Linked DNA regions of Homo sapiens: region 1 is linked to region 2. Evidence: fine-mapped expression QTL. Tissue or cell type: whole blood. Region 2 holds a variant in brackets; the other region holds the start of a gene. All regions are shown on one strand. Distances are between the middles of the regions. Region 1 holds the start of ABAT (4-aminobutyrate aminotransferase). Region 2 overlaps ABAT (4-aminobutyrate aminotransferase).

Evidence for each region. PIP is the estimated chance that this variant, and not a neighbour inherited with it, causes the effect.
Region 1: it holds the start of ABAT, and the variant in region 2 is fine-mapped to the expression of ABAT in whole blood (INTERVAL, PIP 0.98).

Annotation. Positions count from the first base shown.
Region 1 is chr16:8,666,914-8,679,145 of GRCh38, forward strand. It overlaps ABAT (4-aminobutyrate aminotransferase), which reads left to right and starts at 7,704. Exons shown (of 16, transcript NM_020686.6): 1 at 7,704-7,798. It also overlaps a transcript of METTL22 not described here. RefSeq lists enhancers at 6,701-7,202, 7,203-7,702 and a silencer at 7,297-7,756.
Region 2 is chr16:8,713,357-8,725,088 of GRCh38, forward strand. The region is part of intron 1 of ABAT (4-aminobutyrate aminotransferase); the gene reads left to right. Among named protein-coding and RNA genes, the nearest start is that of ABAT, 45 kb to the left of the region's middle. RefSeq lists an enhancer at 6,747-7,247. The variant A/G (reference allele first, on the strand shown) is at 4,562.

The DNA.
Region 1 (12,232 bases), 46 kb before region 2:
GTAGCTAGGATTACAGGCACCTGCCACCATGCCCAGCTAATTTTTTTGTTTTTTGTATTTTTAGTAGAGACAGGGTTTCACTATGTTAGCCAGGCTGGTCTCGAACTCCTGACCTCAGTTGATCTACCCACCTCAGCCCCCAAAAGTGCTGGGATTACAGGCCTGAGCCACCGCGCCCGGCTCTGTCTCCTGATTTTCATCTTCCATTGTCTGTAGGGAGGAGAGATGAGGACGAGAGGGAGAAAGGATGCCTGGGCTTGCTTTCTCAGTGGGGAAGAGTTCAATCTCAGTTCAGGTTTTCTTTTAACAAAATTTTTATGTTAATAAAATTAATAAAGTTGTTTTATTTATTTATTTTAAATTTTTATTTTCTTTATTATTTTGTTATTTTATTTTAAGTTCTGGGATACATGTGCAGAATGTGCAGGTTTGTTACATAGGTATACATGTGCCATAGTGGTTTGCTGCACCTATCAACTCGTCATCTAAGTCTTAAGCCCCGCGTGCATTAGGTATTTGTCCTAATGATCTCCCTCCCCTTGCCCCCCAATCCCCTGACAAGCCCCTGTGTGTGATGTTCCCCTCCCTGTGTCCATGTGTTCTCACAGCTCAACTCCCACTTATGAGTGAGAACACGTGGTGTTTGGCTTTGTGTTCCTGTGTTAGTTTGCTGGGAATGATGGCTTCTAGCTTCATCCATGTCCCTGAAAAGGACATGATCTCATTCTTTTTTATGGCTGCATAGTATTCCATGGTGTATATGTGCCACATTTTTGGGGTTTTCTCCTCCTCTGTAAAGTTTCAGCACAGAGTTCCTGGACAGCGCCTCAGGGCCAAGAGCTCCCCAAGAGCTCCCCAAGAGCTCTCCAAGATGTCCTTCCTCAGCATCCTGCTGTCCTTTTCATGCAGTGAAATTGATACGTATTCCTAGAACTCCTACTGCATGCCAAGCACTGTCAGAAGTCAAGTCATCAAAGAACTCAGAAAAGAAGTACATGTTTAGCTATTTTTTCCATCAGTCTCGATGAGGGAGCTACACTCCAACTGATCCCTGGAGATACCACAGCCATGTATTGTCAAGAAGAATTGGGGTAAATAGGCAGGGTATCTCTAGCCACAGGAGGAAGGGACCCAGGATGTACTAAGCTCCTTCTATATTCTTGGAACTACATACACATTAACTCAGGCAGGGTTTCTCAAGCTCGGCACCACTGACATGTTGAGCATGAGAATTGTCTGTTGTTCACTTTCTGCCTTTAGGAAGTCCTGCAGAGCATGGGGGTGGCAGTATGACCCAGCTCCCCTGTCATTTCACTACATCTTGAGCCAGAAGGGGGACTGCACTGCCGTGCATCCTTTGGGCTGGCAATGCTGGCGGTCCCAGTCATCACAATGGCAGCAGAACAAAGCCCTGACATGTGTGTGACGTGTCAGATGCAGCAGCTGCCTGTTGGGCCTGGCTCACTTTCTCATGCTTTCCCCATATTACCTGAGATGTTCAGAGGAGGAAAGCTGGAGGCAGCCCTTGGGTCTTCTAGGAGCCTAGCACGAGGGCCAAAATGCATGAGAACAAGCACAAGATAATCCCATAGAAGCCTTCCTCTTAGCATTCAGGCCTCAGATTAAATGTCACAGCCTTGTGGACAACTCCCTGAGCATCATGGCTGGTGTACCCACCCTGATCCCAGGAACATCATCTTATTTTGCATTTCCCTAAAGCACTTATTATCAGAAATTAGCTTCTTAGGCTGGGCACAGTAGATCATACCTGCATTCCCAGCACTTTGGGAGGCCAAGGTGGGAAGATCACTTGAGACCAGGATTTCGAGACCAGCCTGGCCAATATGGCAAAACCCCATTTCTACTTAACATACAAAAACTAGCTGGGTATGGTGGTACACGTCTGTAATCCCAGCTTCTCGGGAGGCTGAGACACAAGAATCGCTTGAACCGGGGAGGCAGAGGTTGCAGTGAGCCAAGATAGCGCCACTGCACTCCAGCCTGGGTGACAGAGCAAGACTCCGTCTCAAAAAGAAAGAAAAAAAAGAACGAATGAAAGAGAGAGAGAGAAAAAAAGAAAGAGAGAAAAAAATGAGAGAGAGAGAAAGAAAAGAAAGAAAGACAGAAAGAAAAAAAGAAAAGAGAAGAGAAAGGAAAAGAAAAAAAAAAAAAAAAGAAAAGAGCTTTCTTAGTTACACATTCATCTTCTTATACACTGTCTCCCAGCTGCAGAATGGAAGTTCCATGGGGTCAGGACCACAATCCCCAATGCCTGGCACGCAGTAGGTGCTAAATGTGTATTTGTTGACTGAACAAATTGATGGAAAAATTACTAAATGAATGAATGAGCTCTGGCCCACCTCTCACAATCAAGCAGATAGTTTGGTGAAACTAGTACAACTATGTACAGGGCTAATGCACAGTGCCCAGCAGGGACCAGGAGCAAACTTCCCTTACTTACCCAACCAATGACCTACTGTGGTACATACTTTTTTCCTTATTATGGTAAAATACACATTGCACAAAATTCACCAATTTTTACCATTTTAGAGTGTACAATTCAATGGCATTAAGTACAATCAAAATGCTTTTTTGTTGCTGTTGTTTTTGAGATGGAGTCTTGCTCTGTCACCCAGGCTAGGTGGAGTGCAATGGCACAACCTTGGCTCACTGCAACCTCTGCCTCCCAGGTTCAGGCAATCCTCCCACCTCTGCCTCTTAAGTAGCTGAGACCACAGCCACACACCACCACACCTGGTTAATTTTTGTATTTTTTCTAACAGTGGGGTTTTGCCAGGTTTCCCAGACTGGTCTCAAATTCCTGGGCTCAAGTGATCCGGCAGCCTTGGAGCTCCCAAAGTGCTAGGATTACAGGTGTGAGCCATTGCACCTGTTCCCCCTTCCCATGTTTTCTTCTAAGAATTTTATAGTGTTAGGTCTTATATTTATTTAGGTCTTTGATCCAATGTTGAGTTAGTTTTTTTATATGGTGTGAGGTAAGCGTCTATCTTCTTTCTTTTACATGTGAAAACGTGGTAGATACTTTATTCAATTTACAGATTAGAACATAGAGACTGAGAGGGAGTAAATGACATGTCCAGAGTCACATAGCCATTGGGAGTTGGAACTAGAATTCAATATTAGGTCTGACTCCCAAGTTGATCCCCTTTCCACCACATCAAAATGCCCTTTATTATTTTGTATAGATGATATCTCTTTATTATTTTGTGACCAGGGATGTGGAAATCACAGGCCTAGTCAATAAAATATGTGCTTTAATCTGGCTCTGGACAAGTTATTCCTCCTCTCTGGGCCTCAGTCTCCTCTTCTGTACAATGGGCTGCTGATCTCTAAGAGTCTCTCCTGTGGAGACAACTGGTACCCTTGGAGCCTCATTCACCCTTGCCTTTGTTTTCATTTCTCCTCTCCAGAGTGCAGTGGGGGCCCTCCCAGCTACAGCTGCGCTTCTGGAAGGAGCTTATTGATAGGCACAGAGTATGGGTGAGTCTTCATCCCAGGCCTCAGCCAAACTCTGGGAAACACTCTGCATTCCCTGGCAGACAGCTGCAACCCCAAGCAGCTCCATAGGAAAACTGCAGAATGGCAGAAAATGCAAGGGAAGCCAATATGGAAAGGGCTTTTTCCACATGCTGACAGTTTTCTTCACAAGTATCACAATGAAGCTATTTGAGAATCAGCTTGCAAAGCACCTGGCTCTAAATAGCCTTCTCTCCCTAGTCCTTAAGTAGAGACAAAGCAGCTCCTTTTATCCTCTAGAAGTGCCCTTTCCTAGGGCCTGACCCACAAATGGGTGCTCAAAACCTAGTTGAATGAATGAATGAACAGATGAATGAAGATGGCTACACACACTTCTTATTTCCCTTGATTGCCTTAGACCAGGACACGGCAGATTTTTCGCAAAGGGCTGGAAGGTAAATATTGTTGTCTTTTCAGGTCACAGAGTCTCTGTCACAGCTACTCAGCTCTGCTGTTGTAGCTCACAGACAGCCATAGACAATGCATAAATAAATAGGCCTGGCTGTGTTCCCATAAAATTTTATTTATGCACAGTAAAATTTGAATTTTATGTAGTTTCTATGTGTCACATAACATTATTCTTCTTGTGAATTTTTTTAACCATTTAATATGTAAAACCAATCTTAGCTCATGGTCATAGGAAAACATGATGAACTACATTTGGTCTATGAGCTATAGTTTGTCAACCTTTGGCTTAGACTCTTTTTTAAAAAAAAATTATTTATAAATAGAGATGGGGTTTCGCCATGTTGGCCAGGCTGGTCTCGAACCCCTGGCCTCAAGTGATCTGCCCGCCTCAGCCTCCCAGAATACTGGGATTACAGGTGTGAGCCACCACTCCGGGCCCTTTGGTTTAGACTTTTCCTTTCTGTTTTTCATTTTAAATATTTTCTTCTTAGTACCAGAGTAATATATATTCATTACAGAATAATTAGAAATTAGTGACATTGTAAAGTTTATCCTCTATTAAAAATAAACCCAAGGGGATAAAAAGAAATTACTGACATGGACATGCAAATAAAGTAATATTAGAATAATCTATAATTTCAATACACAAAAATAACCATTCTCCTACTGAACACAGTTTTTCACTCAGCATTGCTAGCTAGCTATATCGGTGCCTTTTAATATGATAGCCACTAGCTACCTGTTACTGTTACACCTTAAATTAAAATTAGATACAGGCTGGGCGTGGTGGTTCACACCTGTAATCCCAGCACTTTGGGAGGCTGAGGCAGGCAGATCACTGGAGGCCAGGAGTTTGAGACCAGCCTGGCCAACATGACGAAACCCTGTCTCTACTAAAAATTAAAAAATTAAACAACGAGCCAGGCGTGGTGGAGCACGCTTGTAATCCCAACTACTCAGGAGGCTTAGGCAGGAGAACCGCTTGAACCTGGGAGGCAGAGGTTGCAGCGAGCTGAGATCACACCACTGCACTCCAGCCTGGGTGACAGAGCGAGACTCCGTCTCTAAAAAAATAAATAAATAGATACAATTAAAATACAGTTATTCGGTTAACTAGTCATTGCTTTTTCCAAAATTTTAAATTTATTTTTCCCTTTTCCTTTTTTTATTATTTCTTTCTTTCTTTTTTTTTTTTAAACATCTTGGATACCAAAATTAGTCATTTCAGGTGTTCAATACCTCCATGTGGCTAGTGGCTACCACACGGGACGGCACAGATATAGAGCATCATAGAAAGTTATATTACACAGCATTGATCTAGCTCTACCTGGTAGATTTAACAAAAAGTAAGATGTTTAACAAAAAGTAAGACAGTACCAAATATACTGTTTTTGCAAATAACTTAACATTTTGAGATTTGTTTTGTTTTGTTTTTGAGACAGGGTCTCACTCTGTCACCCAGCTGGAGTACAGTGGTGTAATCTTGGCCCACAGCAGCCTCAACCTCCCAGGCTCAAGGCTGCCTCAGTCTCCTGAGTAGCTGGGACTACATGCATGCGCCACATCGCCCGGATAATTTTTGTATTTTTTGTAGAGACAGGGTTTCACTATGTTACCCAGGCTGGTCTTGAACTCCTTGGCTCAAGCGATCCTCTTGCCTTGGCTTCCCAAAGTGCTGGAATTACAGGCGTGTCACCACACCCAGCCCCATTCAATATTTCATACCTATGTTTATTGTTCAATTTCATGCAACAATTTCCCTCTGAGTCCCTGCTGTTGTGCATTCAAGTTGTTCCCAGTTTTTCCCTGTGATAAACAAAATGGTAGTAAGCTACTTTATCATTAAATCTTTGTACCTTTAAATGTTTTCAGATAAGTTCATAGGGATTGGATTGCTAGATCAAAGGGTCAACTTACTTTTAAGATTTTTAAAATAGAAATACCCAATTTCCCTCCAGAAAGGCTGTGATCTTTCTACTGCCATCATCAATACATGAAACTCCTTGAAGTCTTTGCAAAGAATAGTAATTATAATAATAAAAACAAGGTCATTTTGGTAGGTAAACTCTTTCCCTCTTTTGGTTTTAACTTGCCTTTCCTTTTCAAAGTGTCATCTCCCATGTTTATTGGCCGTTGTATTTCTTTGGGCAGGTCAAGGGTAGTAAAGGGGATTATGTTCATGGCTTTGGTTTTAAGAAAAAATTGCTAGATTTTCAGCACAGGCCTCATCAAGTTCCTCAAGCAAGGTGACAATCACCCAGGCTAGAGTGCAGTGGTGCCATCTCACCTCAGTGCAACCACTGCCTCTCCATTCAAGCGATTCTCATGTCTCAGCCTCCCAGGTAGCTGGGATTACAGGCAGGTGCCACCATGCCAGGCTAATTTTTGTATTTTTAATAGAAAGGGGGTTTCCCCATGATGGCCAGGCTGGTCTCGAGCTCTGGGCATCAAGTGATCTGCCTGCCTCGGCCTCCCAAAGTGCTGGAATTACAGGCGTAAGCCACTGTGCCAGGCCTCAATTATTCTTATTTACTGCTCTGTGTGTGTGTGTGTGTGTGTGTGTGTGTGTGTGTGTGTGTGTTGGGGGGGAGGGTCCCCAGAGGTGACACTAGGAGGTGAATGATTTGTTTGGCAGCTTTCTATTTATCTATGTGTTTACTTTATCTTAATTCTTTAATTGCAAGGACTATAGCGCTTGTGTAATCAGAGATAGGGCAGCCTGGATTCCTGGACAGCAGGAGGAGAGACCTCAGGGTTCTACAAGACTCCACAGACCAAGTTATCAGTGATCAGGGTGAGTGGGGAGAACCAAGCTGAACTCTTTCTCTGCCTTTAAGGTCTGTACTCTCCATCCATCCATTCATTCATTATGAGGACTTGGTGATCGCCTGTTGTCTTGATGAGCAGTTCTTTGTGTCTTTGATTTTGTCACTGAAAGATTGCATCCTCTTTCCAAATACCTCTAGAAAGCTGTGGGGGGGCTATCCATCCGTCACACCTGAGTATTAATTATCTTCCACACAGCATTTTATACAACGGTAGAAAGGCACCTTCATCATATCTAGGGTCTCGTTTATACCCACGAAGGAGGTACAATCTCTGTTGTCCCAATTTCAGGAAATTGAGGATCAGGAGGCGCAGTGACCTGCTCCAGGTCATGCAGAAGGAACCACCTCTGACTCCCAGCGCCCTGTTTGTCTTCCGGAGCGCTGGGGCCAGGCGGAGGAAAGTAGCTGGGAGCAAGAAGGGCTGGCAGGGCCCTGAGCGCCGAGATGGGGAGTGAGGTGGGGAGGGCGGGATGCTCCTTCCCTTCTCCGCAAAGGAACCCCTTCTGATTCCGACTCTGGAGCTCCAGAGACCGGATCCGAGACGCGGGTGGAGGTGGAGTTACACTCGCCTGCAGCCCTGAGGGTGTAAATGGCCCATTAAGATCCAGGTTAAATCAACCTATGGAGCTGCCCCCCAGAGGGTCAGGGTCCCCACAACTTGACGGGGGTCCTCAGCCGTCTCCTCCCCAGTCCCAGGACTCCCTCCCAGCCCTCGCGGTCCCTCTGGTGGGTCCCGCCCCAGCCCCCGTCTCCCCCGCCCCCGGAGGCTGGACTCTGCCCCCGCCCCGCCTGCCACCTCCCTCCTGGGGGCGGTGGCCCGTGGCGGGCGCACCCATTGGCTGTGGCGAAAGCGAGGGCCGGGGCTGGCGGCGCTGATTGGCCGGGACGCTCGGCGGAGCCAGGGAGTCCGGCGAGTCGCTGGGGGAAGTCGAGCAGACACCCAGCGCTGCCGGAACTCGGGGCGCGCATCCCGCAAGTCGGAACCCGGCGGATCGGATCCCGCAGATCGGAGACGGGGCCTGGAGGTGAGCGCGAGGCGCCGGGTGGCTTGGGACGGGCCCTTCCGAGGGGAGCCGAGAGGAGGTCCTTCTGCCCTGCCCCCAGGAGCAAAACCTGGGCATCTTCTCCTGGAAACGGAGCCCTCATCTTCCCAAGACGCGGGGCCCTCCCCCGAAAAGACAGGGGCTCCCACCCCCCAGAGAGCAAAATACCTTCCTTTCTCCTTCAGAAATGGGCCCTTCCTCCTGGCTCCAGCTCTAGACAGAAGTCCTCTCCCTTTTACCGCTTGAAATAGAATGCGGCCCCAAAAAGTGGTCTCCAGGTCTCTAGAGCCCCCTCACCTCTTGGGAGACTGATGCCCCTTCCCCATCCTTAGAAAACTAAGTTTGGGTGTCTTCCTTCTCCCCTCTCTTTCGGAATAATGGGGGTCTTCTCAGCTTATAAATTACAGTGACCTCCCCCTCCATGACAAATGGAAGCTCTCCCCCCATCATAAGACAAGGAAATCCCGGAGCAGAGACTCTGCAAGTCACCCTCCCACCCCAGATACTGGGCTCTGGAGAGATAGATGATTCACCCTTAGCCCTGCCGGAGACCCCTCCCTACCCGTCAGAGAGGCAGGGTGGCCTCTGACACCACCACATTAAAGGCTTTTGGGGATTTCCCCTCTCCTCCCCAGTAAAGATGTAAAATGAGGGACCTTCATACTCAGGAGCAGGGCAAAGGTCTGGCCACCCCTCCAAGTCATCCACCTCCCTCCACTCCACCCAAGCCCTTTCACACAAACCCCATCCTAGTAACCCCCTGCACCATCCTCCCACCGCTCCCAATCCCATCCTTCTCCACCTCACCCCAACTCCACTCCCACACCTGGCTGCCCCACCTATTTCACATCCTCTCACCTTTCCTCACCCACCCTGGCCAAGGTAAGACTAGAGGGGGTTCAGCGAGATTTAGTAAGACTGGAGCTCTTAAAACTGGGATCTGGGGCCTAGAGGCCCTTCCAGGAGTCTTCAAACTCTGACAACAGAGATGGCCTCTGAGGCAGCAGGACCAGCAGAGACCACCCGCCACCTCTCCCCCGCTCCCTGCCCCAACACACGCACAAAGGCTGTGTTCAATGCATTCTCTCTTGCAGTCTGGGAGGACAGCTGGCCCTCTTCCAAGAGGGCCCGCATTTCCCCCCTAAAGTGTGCACCCCCGCAAGCGCCTGTGGACATTGCCTGGTGGAATTCCCTGGGCACTCAGCCAAGAGAAATGGGTGCTGCTGGGCCCATCCACTGGGGAGGAGACAGTGTTGGCTTTGCTGCTTTGATGAAGCTAGACTAAGGGACAGGATGTTGGTGACCTGGGGGTGGGGAGGGGGTGGGAAGAGCTCTTCTCTGGTGGGTCAGGTTGGGAGGCAGGAGAGAGGGAGGCAGTGAGTTGTGTCTTGCTCTTTGGAGCCTGTGTTGCGGCGTGGAGTCATAGAGAAATGTGTTTTCTCGAGGCCCAAAGAGGTTAGCCACGGGGAGAGGTAAATGGTCCAGTCTGGAGTCCTAAGACCTAAAAGGGCTTCTGCATTAAAGACGTGGCCCCTTCATTTGACAGTTAAACACACAGAGGCACAAAAGGGGAAGAGACTTGCTCAAGGTCACCCAGCCTGTGGGAGACAGCTGGCCCCAACCCCTCCAGGACCCTTAAGGTGCTAGGATCCCTGACACAAGCCCCAGTCCTCACATTTACAATGGGGACTTGGGGACTGCTGGGTCCCAAGTCCCCACTTGTCAGAGGAAGCGCCAAGGCTCTGCAAAGGTCATGAAGCCAGGAAGGGGCAGAGCTGGAACTCAATGCCATCCCCCAGCAGGCTGCCTCGTGGAATCCATTCCTGGGTGTCAGCGCATCCCTGCTTACCCCGTGCGATCTTTGTGTTGAGGCCATTGCCAAATCTAGGCTTGCCAAAATCCAAACTGACCCAGGATAGCTAATAAGATCAGTTGCAGCTAATGAGAATGAGATGCTGGAGTGGAGGCTACTGCAGGAACCTCACTTGCATAGCTGGGTTTGCTCCAAGAACTTTGGACAGGTCCTGAGGATGTCATATTCCTTCCCTCCAAGGTCCCCTCCCTCTTAGCCCCTGCCCACGCCCTCTGGCTTTGAGTTCCCTGCACATTGTCTCATCTCTGTTCAGAGGCCTGCGTCTTTTCTCCTGGGGCATTGCATGGGAAAAGAGCTGAAATTCTGGCAGATTCTCTAGGACCACCCAGCTGGGCAGCATGGTCTGAAGTAGAGGCTCTCTCTGTTTCTGCCCCCACCCAGTTCCCAGCTAAAGGATTGGTTGTTGTGCCCCAACTTTGCCAAGGCGAAGTTCAAAGCATGAGGAGGACCACGGTAGAGAGGCCGAGAGGTTGGTCCCTGGAGACCTCTTATCTGGGTCGAGAGCACAAATCTGCCACTTAGTGTCTGATCTTAACCTCTCTGTGACATATCCTTGGGGTAAAATGAGTTAATCCTCATAAAATGTTTAGCACACAGCAAAATGAGCAGAAACAATGATTACAAGTGCAAAGTCATAAAACCTCTAATCATGAAGTGGGGAGGTGCTTATGCCTTAAGGCAAAACTTGTAACCCTTGCCGTAGATAATCTGCCAGGGCCAAGGTGCCTGGGGACAAGGGGATGTCTTCCTAGAGAGACAGTGTAGTATGTGGAATGGACCACAGACCCTGAAGCCAGATGGAGTAGAGAGTTGGCCACTGGTAGTGGCTGTCTATGGAAACTTAGGCAAGTCATTCATGTCTCTGAACCTCAGTTCCTCGTCTTTGAATGAGGTTTGTTGGGGTTGGACATCAGAAAAGAGACAGGTCTAGATGAGGGGTTCTCATTTTGGGCACTGTTGACAGTTGGGTCAGAGGATTCTTTGTTGTGGGACTCCCCTGTGTATTGTAGGATATTCAGCAGCGCCTCTGGTCTCTACCCACTAGATGCCAGTGACACTCCCTACCCCATGAGTCATGTCCATCAGAAATGTCTGCAGACATTGCCAGATGTGCCCTGGGGAGCAAAATCATCCTTTTCCTTCGCTATTGAGAACTGCTGGTCTAATACATGGCCTTAAACATAGTTGATACTTAATATAAAACAGCTTCCTAGCTGAGGCGGGTGGATGGCTTGAGCCCAGGAGTTTGAGACCAGCGTGGGCAACATGGCAAAACCCCATCTCTGTAAAATACAGGAAAAAAAAAATCAGCTGGTCATGGTGGCATGCGCCTGTAGTCCTAGCAACCTGGGAGGCTGAGGTGGGGGGATTGCTTGAGCCCGGGGAGGTCGAAGCTGCAGTGAGCCATGATCACACCACTGCATTCCAGCCTGGGTGACAGAGTGAGACACTGTCTCCAAAAAAAAACAAAATAAAAACCAAAAACAGCTTCTTTCTTGCACAAGCTCCTCGTTTTGGTTTCTGTGTAATGAGGAGAAGGAGATGTGTCTAGCTGTGGAGCCTTCCAATATTAATAACAATTTTTAATTTCTCACATTTACACAAGACTTTCTTGTCTGGTTTTTGTTTTTCTCTTTAGTAGAGACAGAGTCGGGTGGTCTCTAACTCCTAGGCTTAAGCGATCCTCCCGCCTTGGCTTCCCAAAGCACTGGGGTTACAAGTGTGAGTTACAACCAAAGCGCTGGGGTTACAAGTGTGAGTTACAGGAATAAGCCACAGCACCCAACCTACACAGGACCTTATCATCTCCAAAGCACTGTTGTGTCTATGACACTGTTTCTCACTCTACAGATAAGCAAACTAAGCCTCACAAAGGTTAAAAGACTTGTCTAAGACCATCACCCGCTTCTCCACCAGGCATCAGAGAAACATCCATGCCAGAAATTGTTTGAGAAACAACTGAGTTCTGGGCCTTCTTCAGATTAGTTATCAGGGTCTTTCGAAACTTCAATGGCATGCTCTTTGGTCCAGCAATCCCACTTTGAAAAATCTCACACAGAAATGCTCACACTTGCACTGACATAACATAAAAATGTCCATGGCAGAGCTTGCAACACTGGTATGGGAAGGGATTACAGTATATGCATTCATGTGGGAGAATGAGTAGATTTTAGATGAATGAGGTGGATCCACATTCCTGACCTTGAAAGGTTCCTGAGTCATATTATTTAGTGAAAAAGATAAAGTCACAGAATCAACATAGCCAGTATGATCCTATTTTTTTTTAAATGTAAATATGCATGAACATGGATAGTTAGGGAAGTGGGGAATTAAAAGGACCTAGATAGTATGTATGTATGAGAACATATTCCTGGGGGAAGAAGAAGAAAATAAATCTCCGCCAGCTTCCCATGCATTAAAAATGAGCAAAGTGGGCTGGCCACCTTGTCTCACGTCTGCGATCCCAGCACTTTGGGAGGCTGAGGCGGCAGAATCACTTGAGCCCAGGAGTTTGAGGCTGCAGTGAGTTGTGAGTGAGCCAC
Region 2 (11,732 bases):
GAAATGATGTGTCTTATCCTTCTGGCTTAAACCAAGCTGGGCTTAAAACATCTTTTAAAAAAAATCTGTATTCTATTTTTTTCTCTCTGTTTATCGCTCTCCTTCTGCCTCTGTTAATCTTTGTTTCTGTGTAGTTGCATCCTGTTTCTGTCTGAAAACCCTTGTCTTTCTGAATCCATCTTTCAGTCTCTCACATTCTGTCTTTCCCCTCCTCCTTCACCTTCCCTCCGTCCCTCTCCCTTGCGCACTTGCCGGGTACCAGCTGAGTGCATCCTTTTCCCAAACCTGCTCTGCTTCCAAGGGGCCCTTTTCTGTCTCCTCCACCTGTCCCCATGTTTTGGGGACTGCCTGGAAATCCGGGACACCCTCCTGAGGAGGGAGCTGGTGCCCAACGGCACCTCTTAGGATGAACCCAGCCAGCTGCGTTCCTGGCCTCTGCAGAATGGCATACAGAAGGCATTTTAAGCAAGCGAGCTGAGCTCGCCGCAGGACTCCGACTACCAGGCACCGTGAGTGCAAATGTGTATGTGTGTCTCTGTGTGCATCCTTACATGTGTATGTATTTGCTGCCATGGGGAGGTGGTGCCAGTGTCTGTCAGTGCCTGTTATCTGTGGTGTTGGGGTGTGCAGGTCGGGGGGGCACACACCCTTGTGCATCTGTGTACATGCGTGCACATGTGCCTGGCTCTCTGTGTGTAGGACACACAAATGTACTTAACAGATTTTTCAAGGACACTTTGTGAACACAGCAGGAGGAGACCCTTTAAAGTGGGGACAAAATAATGAAAGATGGATATAGAAATGATGAGATAAGGAATTGCTCTTATCAATAGGCTTGCAACACCACAGTCCGCCTGCATCTGGTCCTAGGAAATGAAGTGAGGGTCACCTTGAAAAGGCATTTTTGTTCAAGCCGCTAAATAAATCCTTTCCCTTCGTTCTAAGGACAAGAACAGCACAAACACACACACCCCTTTCTCTTTGAAACTCAGGGGAATGGAAGGCTCAGGGGGCGCTGTCACTGGGCATTTCAGATAGAGTTTGCAGTGAGAATCTCAGTTGACAGCCAGGGCGGCTCACGCCAAGAGTAGATGTCAGGAAGCTCTGGACAGCCGCTCTCTTCACATCTTGTGGCTGATTAGAAGTTCATTTTGAATTTTTTCCCAGAAGCAGCCTATGCCCCAAGAGGCAACCAGAAGAAAGCAATTTTAGAAAATGCAATTTCATTTGCAGGGCAAGATGTGGGAATCCTGAAAGGTTGGCGCTGAAGATCCTGCAGTTGGTGTGTGCAAGCTGGCAGCCAGGCCGCTGCCGGAGGAAGGGGGTCCTCTGTGCTTTGCATGTCCCTGGGTATTTGGGAAACTTGGCAGCCGGTTGCTCTAAGTGAACCCTGACTCTGGAGTAGGCACTGGGCACCCTGGCGGAGAGGACAGAGCCGGAGACAAGGACTGGCCTCAGGGAGTTTCCAGTTCAAATAGGAACAGACCCGATCACACGCGATACGCTCACCCTCAGACACATTGCTGCTGCCTGCATTTCCTCCGGGCTGCCATCCCCCTTCCCCTACCCTGGCCTCTGTCTGCCACGACTGCCCTTGTCTACCTGCCAAGCTCTAATTATCGTTAAACATCCCGTCACTGCTTCCCGGAAATCTTTAACTTCCACCCAAGAACAGCTAACACTATACGCCCTCCTCTACCTGCAGAAATCACTTGGACCCTCTGACATCACATGTCCAACCGACCTCTTTCTCCACATTTGCCCGTGAGCTGCACTTCATTTTGCAAGGACATAAAGAAGACTATTCACGCAACTACATGCAAAATGACTGGCTGGGATTCCTAAAACGCCAATGTCTTTTAAAAGGCAAAAGGGCTGAGAAATGGTTCCAGGTTAAAAGAGATTAAAGAGCCATGAGCCCAAATGCAATGTTTGATCCTAGGATGAAGCCTGGATCAGGGGAACAGAAAACACTTGTGGGCTGGGCTCAGTGGCTCATACCTGTAATCCCAGTGCTTTGGGAGTCCGAGGGAGGAGGATCACTTGAAGTCAAGAGTTAGAGACTAGCCTCAGGAATATAGGGAGACCCCATCTCTACAAAAAATAAATATAAAAATAAACTAACCAGACATAGTGGTGTGTGCCTGTGATCCCAGCTACTCAGGAGGCTGAGGCAAGAGGATCACCTGAGCCCAAGAGTTCGAGGCTGCAGTGAGCCATGAGCCATGATCATGCCACTGCACTCCAGCCTAGGTGATAGAGCGAGACCCTGTCTCTAAAAAAAAAAAAAAAAAAAAAAACAATTAAAGAAGTTTTAGGGATAAGTGGGAATATCTGAATATAGATTGTATGTTAGATAATAGTATTTATAGTATTTTTATGTCATGAATATGCCAATAATAAATAAATTAAAAAAAGATAATAGTATTTTATTAATGGTACCTTCATGAGAGTGACTTTGTATCTCAGATCATTTGTACTGAGGTTATGTAAGAGAACATTCTTGTTCTTAGAAGATACAGGCTGAAGGATTCAAGGATGAAATATCACAATGTCCACAACTAACTCAAATAATTCAGAAGACAGATAATAGAGTGGGCACGAGTGTGGCAAAATGTTAACAGTTTCGAGGATTACAAGCGGCTGTGGAACTATGTTCATAACTTTTATGTGGGTCTGAAGATTTTCCAGTGCCCAGGCTGGGCACTCTGCTTAGCTTTGCGCGTGGATTATCTCATTTCATCCTCAGAGCAGCTTGGGGATGGGAGAGCTCTATCACACCCATTTTCCAGTGGAGAAAACAGAGGCACAGCTAGTTGTAAGCCCAGGCCACATTATGCCCCCACCCCCTGTTTTGTGAAATTTAGTACTAAAGATACTACATGGCTGTGTGATGTCGGGCAAATCACTTAACCTCTCTGTGATCTGTTTCCTTTTTTCTTTTTTTTGCTACGAGTGGATAATTATAATATCAGAAGGTTGTTCTGATGGGTATTATGATATATAAAGAACTTAGAACAGGGTTTGGCCTAAAGTAAGCGCTGAGCAAGTGTCTGCTGTTGCTGCTGCTAATTGTATTTGTTGCTGCAGTCGTGATCCCAGCACCCTCACCTTGGCCAGTGATGGGGAAACCTGAAGGGTGTTTTTTCTTCTGTACCCAGGGCGTGCTTCATGGGTTTGTGATCTATATGGTCACACAGGGTCCCGTGTTCAGAAGATCCCCCCATGTCACTGACTTGCAATTCGTAACCATTTTCTCACAAGGGGCCTCGAATATTTATTTTATGCACTGGGTCCCACACATCATGTAGCCAGCCCTGTCTGCTCTCCCTTTTTATTGGATCCCGTTGAGAGCCTCTCCTAGACTAAACTACTTGTGCCTACGTCATTGCAGCAGACAGGCCCAGGCAGGCCGTGGCATTTCAGCAGGTCAGATTGTATGTTCCTGTGACCACACTCCAATTCTGATGCAATGCGTCAGCCCGCACAGGCCAGTACAGTAGCCGTTCATCACATCTGGTCATTGAGCATCTGAGACGTGGCTATTCTAAACTGTGATGTGCTGTGAGTGTGAAATTCACACCAGATTTTGAAGACTTAGCACACATCCGAAAAAGAAATGCAAAATATCTTATTAATAACTATATTGATGGCCGGGCACGGTAGCTCGCGTCTGTAATCCCAGCACTTTGGGAGGCCAAGGCGGGTGGATCACTTGAGGTCAGGAGTTTGAGACCAGCCTGACCAACATGGTGAAACTTTGTCTCTACTAAAAATACAAAAATTAGCCAGGAGTGATGGCACACACCTGTCATCCCAGCTACTCGGGAGGCTGAGGCAGGAGAATCGCTTGAACCTGGGAGGCGAAGGTTGCAGTGAGCCGAGATTGTGCCACTGCACTTCAGCCTGGGCAACAAGAGCAAAACTCCATCTCAAAAGTAATAATAATAACTATATTGATTATGTATCAAAATTATTACATTTTAGATACAATGGGTTAAATAAGATACATGAAAAAAATTGGTTTCAGCTGTTTTTGCTTTTTTCATATGGCTACCAGAAAATGTAAAATTACCTATGTGGTTTGCATTGAAAGCTTGTGTTATATTTCTTTTGGGCAGTACTGTCTTAGAGCATACTACCTGTGCCTTCATTGTGACTCCAAACCAAACCAGACCAGCAGGTGACAGTGCAGTGAATTGATTTCTAAGTTACATTAATACACACTGGCCCTGGTGCTGTAGCTTAGACCAGAGTCTCCCAATCAATCCATCAGGCACCTCTTTCTGTTCCTTCTTTTCTGTTCCTTTCTCTCTTAAGATAGTCCAAGACACTGATTTTTATACCCAGTGAGTTTGTCAAGTAGCCTAAAGATATTTTTGAGGCAACGTATTGGGTAAAAAGAAACTGAAGTTGGAATCAGAAGGACTAATTTAAGAATTAAATTAAAATCCCAAATCACCTCTTTTTTTTTTTCTTTTAGAGATGGGGTCTCGCTCTGTCACCCAGGCTGATCTCAATCTCCTGGGCTCAAGCGATCCTCTCACCTTGGCCTCCCAAC[A/G]TGCTGGGATTACACATCAGGTCCCAGGTCACCTCTTCTCCATGAGGTGAGCTTGGGCATGTTATTTCTCTGTGCAAGGAAACAGAACAGCACTAGCTTTAAAGCCTCACAGACCCGAGTTTGAAGACTGGCTCTGCCGTTGACAAGCTGTGTGACACAGGATAAGCCACAACCCTCTCTGAACCTCAGTCTCATCCTCAGTCTCATAGCGCTGATGATGCATACTGTGTAATACTGTTGCAAGAATGGAATAAGATGAAGCAGAACAAATGTCCAACCCAGCAACTGGCACATGGCAGGTGTGCGCTTAATCCCTGCATTCTTAGTGGGATCAGTATTCCCAAGAGAGTGAACATTTATGGGAAAGAAAAGAAATCTTACTCTTTATGAATAAAGTACAGATATAAAATACAATACATAAGCAGATGTACAATTTATCTGTGGAATTAAAATTTCATGGGGTATGTAGCTAATAAAGAATCTTTAGGGGAATGGCAATGAAAAAAAGTTTGAGAAACATTGCATTAATCTGACGGATGGGACTCAGAGGTTGCTTTTCAGTTCAGTTCCTGTAGTTGTCAGAGTATAGGGCTGAAACTCCATGATTGAATTCAACAAGTGTTTTTGAGCACCTACAATAGCCAGACACCGTTCTGGACCCTGGAAATGGAGGGCACCCTCCAGGTACATGCTTCCCAGAGCTGGTCTCTGAGGTCCCCTGAGCCAGCCCCTGCCTCTGGGAAGATGACCCCTAAATGGCAGCCTCAGTCAGGGGGCAGGGTTTTAGAGAACAACAGGAATAGAAGTATTTGCCTCCCAGGAGTAGATAAGACGGTGTATGTGAAACCTTGACACGATTGGCATTCATTCGTAAAATCAGAGCAGATACCTGCACACACAGGCATAAATGAAAGATACTTTGAATTACAGAAAAGTTAAGGTCTTTGCAAGTGCATGTAGGAATGCTGCCAGGCACACAGCGTGACTCCAGCCACCAACAAAGTGTTTCCAAGTCTGGAGCTGTGTGGTCCTTGAAGGAAATATAAATGTTTCACTTGTTATACGCTGTGATTTTTGCGTACTTAGCGGTTTCTGGAGTCCGTGAAAGTGGTTTGTTTTCTCTGAACGGGAAGTGCGTTTCCTCCAATCACACCGACCTGATTTGTTTGTTGCTTGTTGGGCCTCCCCACGGGAACACGAGATCCCACAGAACACAGCAGGACGTGTCCTTGTTTACTGAGGAATCTCTGGGGCTCGGCACAGGTGTGCAGAAAGCATTTATTGAACTGAACAAACAGATTTTACAAGCCGGACCTTCTGTGGCGTTGGCCCGGGTAGCTACTTCAGCATGGGTCCAAGCATCCTTTCTAAGCCAATTCCATTCTTTCACTCCTCCTCCCTTGTAGGATCAGAAATCCAAAGCTAGCTTATCCTTTTGCAGATGTTTCTTTCCATATTATTTCCTACCTCCAGAACAAAGGCTATCTGTGTCTCACATTCGGAGGCTTGGATGTGAAGCCCTGTCTGTTCATTTTTCTCTCCAGTTTTTTCACAGGCTGGGTAACTACCTGCCTGCTAGCAACGATGTGTTCGTTCTCCCTGGATTCCTGATTGAGGTGGGCAGAGAGGACTCTGAGACAGGAGCATGAGGATGAGGCAGATCAGCTTCTTTCTCATGAAATCTGGATGTTGAGGCTGGTAGCAGGACCACCGCATGTGCCAATAGTCTTTAGCAGCTCATCAGGCCATAGAAGAAGTGCCTTTACTAACTTCAAGTCCAGCCTGGGAAACGTAGTGAGACCTTGTCTCTCCCTGTCTAAAAAAAGAAGAAGAAAGAAGGAGGAGGAGGAGGAGAAGGAGAAGGAAAAAAAGAAGTTGTTCACAATTTTTGTTTACTCGTTTACTTATTTTTGAGATGGAGTTTCACTCTTGTCGCCAGGTTGGAGAGCAGTGGCACGACCTCTACTCACTGCAACATTCGGTTCTCAGGTTTAAGCAATTCTCCTGCCTCAGCCTCCCAAGTAGCTGGAACTACAGGCACCTGCCACCACGCCCAGCTGATTTCTGTATTTTTTTGTAGAGTTGGGACTTCACCATTTTAGCCAGGCTGGTCTCGAACTTTTGACCTCAGGTGATCTGCCTGCCTCGGCCTCCCAAAGTGCTAGGATTACAGGCGTGAGCCATCGCGCCCAGCCAAAATGCACAATTTTAAAGAGCTCTTTGGAAACAGAAAATGGCCTGCAACAGGCATCTCTTCCACATCCTATGTACTTTCTTCAATTGACCCTAAGCCAGTTGAGTGCCTCCTGACCCCACAAATAGATTTCATTCTTCCCATTTTACAGATGCAGAAACTAAGGCACTGATGAGTTCAGCAACTTGCCTAGGTAATATATATGGCCCAGCCACACTTTAGACCCAATTTCTGGCTCTTGTTACTTTCCCCACATCATTCTCAGTCTTTCTTAGGAATGGACATTTGCCTGTTTCCAAGAACAGTATTTCTGTCTCCCTATACAAGTCACTGATAATTTTATGATGCCCAAGAGGCAGGTGATAGGAAGTCATGCCTGCAGGGAGAGAGGGCTGGGGCCCATGCGGAGGGGAAAGTCAGAAGAGGCTGTTGCAGCTGAAGTCGGAGGAGAAAAGTGGATGTGAGATAAAGCCTCTGTCCCTGTGCCACTGCCCCTGAATGGGGCCCTGTTAACCCCATCTGCACAGGCCCACGGCTCCGGCTTTATGGGTTGCTATGGCAACCCCTGGCCTTGACAACTGAAGTGCACTTGGCTGAGTGTGTCTTTGTGTCCCTTTGAGTCTGCAGAGAAGCCAGCAGCTGGGGCTGCAGACGGGAAAGGAATGTCCTCAGCGTCTGCCAGCACTTTTGTCTTGGTCCCAACGGCTGATAGGAAAATGAGAGGCAGGGTCTTTTCTAGAGAGATCTGGGGGGTCCATTTCTAGCCGATGATGCATGCAAAGAGTTCGTGTTCACAGGACCTGGGAAGCAGCGGAGTAGAAAGGTGAGTCAGACGCCATCTTCATAGGCTGCTTGTTGAGCATTTACTGTTTATTCAATGATTGTTTGCAGGCAGGCACTGCTCTGGGGCTGGGGAAACAGTAAGGACTTCTGCCAGCCCACAAAATAGTTCCAATTGCTATTACTCCCATTTTACAGATCAGGAAACTGAGGCACAGAGACGTTACTTAATGTGCCTGAGGTTATACGGCGGGTCAGTGAGAGGCCAGGGATGTCTAGTCTGGGGGTAAGATCATTTTGAAGGATGCAAGATTGGGGAGATGCAGGGAAGAAGCAGTTTCATATCCAGCACCTCACACTCTGCCTCCACAGGCTTTTTTCTCCCTGTATCCATGGGATGTTTGACCTCCAGTTCCAGGGATTTGAGGATCATGAAGTCCTGTGGTCATATGCAGGGCCCACCGTCCACTCTTTATGGTAATTAACAGTAGTTCTCAGCCTCCGAGCCTCCAGAGCTTCCCCCGGTGCCCAGGTCACACCTGTGAGACTCAGACCTACTTAGTCTGGGTGGGGCTTTGACACAAGTGTAAGCTTCTGGTGAGCGAGCGTCAGGTGCAGCCAACGCTAGAAATTTCTGGCTTTTGAGCTCTAAGACCTTGAACAAGCCTTTTAGGCTTCTGAACCGGTTTTATAACGCCAGCCAATCCTGCAGATTACCGAAAGGATCTATGGAAGGTCTATTGCATGTGGTAGGTGAACAGTAAGTAAATAAATGGGAGCTGGTACTTTTACTATGATTATTCTTTCTCCAGAGCAAATTGGAAGAGTTTGTTTCCACTTTCACCTGAATTCCTCTCACTTTTACTGATTTAAACATTGAACTCGGCCTCTTAGCTCATCTCGCCCCTCCCCGCAATGCACCAGACACACGAAGGAAGCAGAGAGAGCTAATTTGCATTTTAATCAAAAGAAAAAGGACGAGGAGAGGTGGGTGGGACTGAAGAGCTCACTATCTGGCTAGACCAGGGTTTTGACTTGTTTTGACTGAGACACACAGTAAGGAATAGAACTTACTTCAGGCCCACTGCACAGCTGAAACAAAAATTACCAGCATTTGCTATGTACCCTGACAATTCCTATTCTGTTTGATTTACTGATGGATTTAAATTTCTCTTTCAGTTCTGATCATGTCAAGGAAAAGGTCCCCATGTGATGCCAGCCTGCCTTTAACACCTGTCTGCTCTCTGCCAGTCTCTAGGGAAAGGAGGGGGCCAGGCCTGGGGCTATAGCCTTGGGCGGTCCACTCTGTCCGGCTTTTAATTGAATAACTTGCTTTGATTTTATTATGTTCTTTTCCTAGTTGCCTTCGTAGCAAATAAAACTTGACGGGGGAAGATAGCAATTAGGTTTTTTTATTTGTTATATTTTTCTTTGTAGAGACAGGGGTTTCACTATGTTAGCCAGGCTAGTCTCAAACGCCTGGCCTCAGCTGATCCATCTGCCTCGGCATCCCAAAATTCTGGGATTACAGGCATGAGCCACCACACCTGGCCAGAAGGTAGCAATTGGAAAGGATCCTAGGAAAATTACTTTTTTAAATTGAAAAAGCAAGTTGATTTCAAGAAAAATGTTAAGTCAACACAAGTCATATGAGACATAAGAGCTCAAAGGAAGGGTAGTATGCCAAGAACTGAGGTTCGGGAAATGCATGGGGGAGATTGGGGGTCTCAGAGACCAGGAGGGCCAACAACCAGCCTGCTGTAACTTCAGATTTTCAGATTTCTCCAACCTCCTTGGTCACAATTTCATGGCGTGCCAGTGCTCTGAAAGCACCTCCCTTCTAACCAGGAATCCTTCACCTGCTTCTTTCCCCAGATGCGCCCATCCAGGGTCTAGCGGATTGCAAAGGGCCTGGTAGAATCAAAGAGGGATATACTAATGCAACTTCGAGGTAGGAGCAAGGCTTGGGGAAAATGCTGTGGCAAATTCTCAGTAATATGGAACTCTTAGCACGCTTGTCAGGTGTTTCTTAGAGTCCGAACGGGCCTTAGAAACAATGTGATCCAGCCAGGCAAGGTGGCTCATGCCTGTAATTCCAGCACTCTGGGAGGCCGAGGGATCACTTGAGGTCAGGAGTTCAAGACCAGCCTAGCCAACATGGTGAAACCCTGTCTCTACAAAACATACAAAAATTAGCCAGGTGTGGTGGCGTGCCCCTGTAATCCCAGCTGCTCAGGAAGCTGAGGCAGGAGAATCACTTGAATCCGGGAGGCAGAGGTTACAGTGAGCCAAGATCACACCAGTGCACTCCAGCCTGGGTGACAGAGTAAGATCGTGTCTCTCAAAAAAATAAAGAGAGGAAGCCGAGAGGCTATTTAGGATATCATTGCCTTCATCCAGGAGAAGGATGATGGCAAGTTGGACCAGAGCATGTTGGAGACTTGTGCACCAGCAGGGATATACTGGAACCCTGGGCACCCAGCTCCCTTCTATCATCATTGGTGCTTCAGGCTTCTGTACCAAGAAAGAGAGCCTTCCCTTGTGGCAGCCTGCATCTGGGGTTTCCAGTGCAAGCCTGCAGGGAAAGTCTGCCTATCTGTGGGGCCTCTTTCCTTGGCAACTCCAGAAATCTCCAGGGATCTCAGACCATAGGGCTCTAGAATCAATGACTACATCTTCAGCAGCAAGTATAAGACAGGAGCAAGTCAGAGACAGAGTAAATGCAAATGACTTGTGTGCCTATGATTGTCCAGGATGTGTTCATCCATTATCCCTAATTCCCAGCGCAACCCTGCAGTGAGAGAGGCATCACTATCTCCAATCTACAAATCAGGAAACTGAGGCTCAGAGCATTTTTGTAAGTTTCACCCTGTTGTACAAGTACCTAAGATAGGGCAGTGGTTTGGATCCAAGCTTTTTATATATATATATATATATTTTTTTTTTTTTTTTTTTTTTTTTTTTTTTGAGACGGAGTCTTGCTCTGTCGCCCAGGCTGGAGTGCAGTGGCATGATCTAGGCTCACTGCAACCCCCACCTCCCGGGTTCAAGCAATTATCCTGTGTCAGCCTCCCCAGTAGCTGGGATTACAGGTGCACGCCACCATGCATGGCTAATTTTTATATTTTTAGTAGAGACAGGATTTCACCATTTTGGCCAGGCTGGTCTTGAACTCCTGACCTCAGGTGATCCATCCACCTCAGCCTCCCAAAGTGCTGGGATTCCAAGTGTGAGCCACTGCGCCCAGCCCCAAGCTTTATATTCTAAAACCCAGGCTCAAATACCACCTCCATGCACAACCCACATATCTTAATTATCTATTATGGTGCACATAACAGACATCACTAATCTATCACATTTTTTCCCCTGAAAACCTAAAAGAGTGCTTCCTGCTAACAGGTCAAAAAATAATGAAAAATAAAAAATAAGTAAAGCTAAAAGAGGCCGTAAAATCTTTTTGTTCGCTGCTCCAAATAGGCAATACTCATTGGCCAGCACTGGCACGTGTTGTAACATTTATTTGCCATTTCAATACTGCACAGAAAATTAGCTTCTCTCAGCTAGGCATGGTGGTTCACACCTGTAATCCCAGCACTTTGGGAGGCCAAGGTGGGAGGACTGCTTGAGCCCAGGAGTTCAAGATCAGCCTGGGCAACATGGTGAAACCCCATCTCTCCAAAAAAGAAATACAAAGATTAGCCAGGTGTGGTGGCATGTGCTTATAGTCCCAGCTACTCGGTAGGCTGAGATGGGAGGATCACTTGAGCCTGGGAGCCAGAGGTTGCTGAGATGGCACCACTCCACTCCAGCTTGGGCAATAGAGCCAGACCTTGTCTCAGGAAAAAAAAAAAAAACAAAAAAAAAAAAAAAAAAAAAAACAATGGCAATCTTGGGGTCACACAGCCTGTAGCAGGTGGAAATTGAAGAATAAGTCTGTGTGATCAGAGTGTGTCATTACTCTACACACACTTCTTTGGTCCTCTCCCTTCCCATCTACAAAAGACAGCCAACTCCAATATCTCTTTTTTCTTTTTTTTTTTTTTGAGATGGAGTCTCACTCTGTTGCCCAGGCTGGAGTGCAGTGGCGCCATCTCGGCTCACCGCAACCTCCGCCTCCCGGGTCCAAGCGATTCTCCCGCCTCAGCCTCCAAAGTAGCTGGGATTACAGGCGCCTGCCACCACGCCCGGCTAATTTTG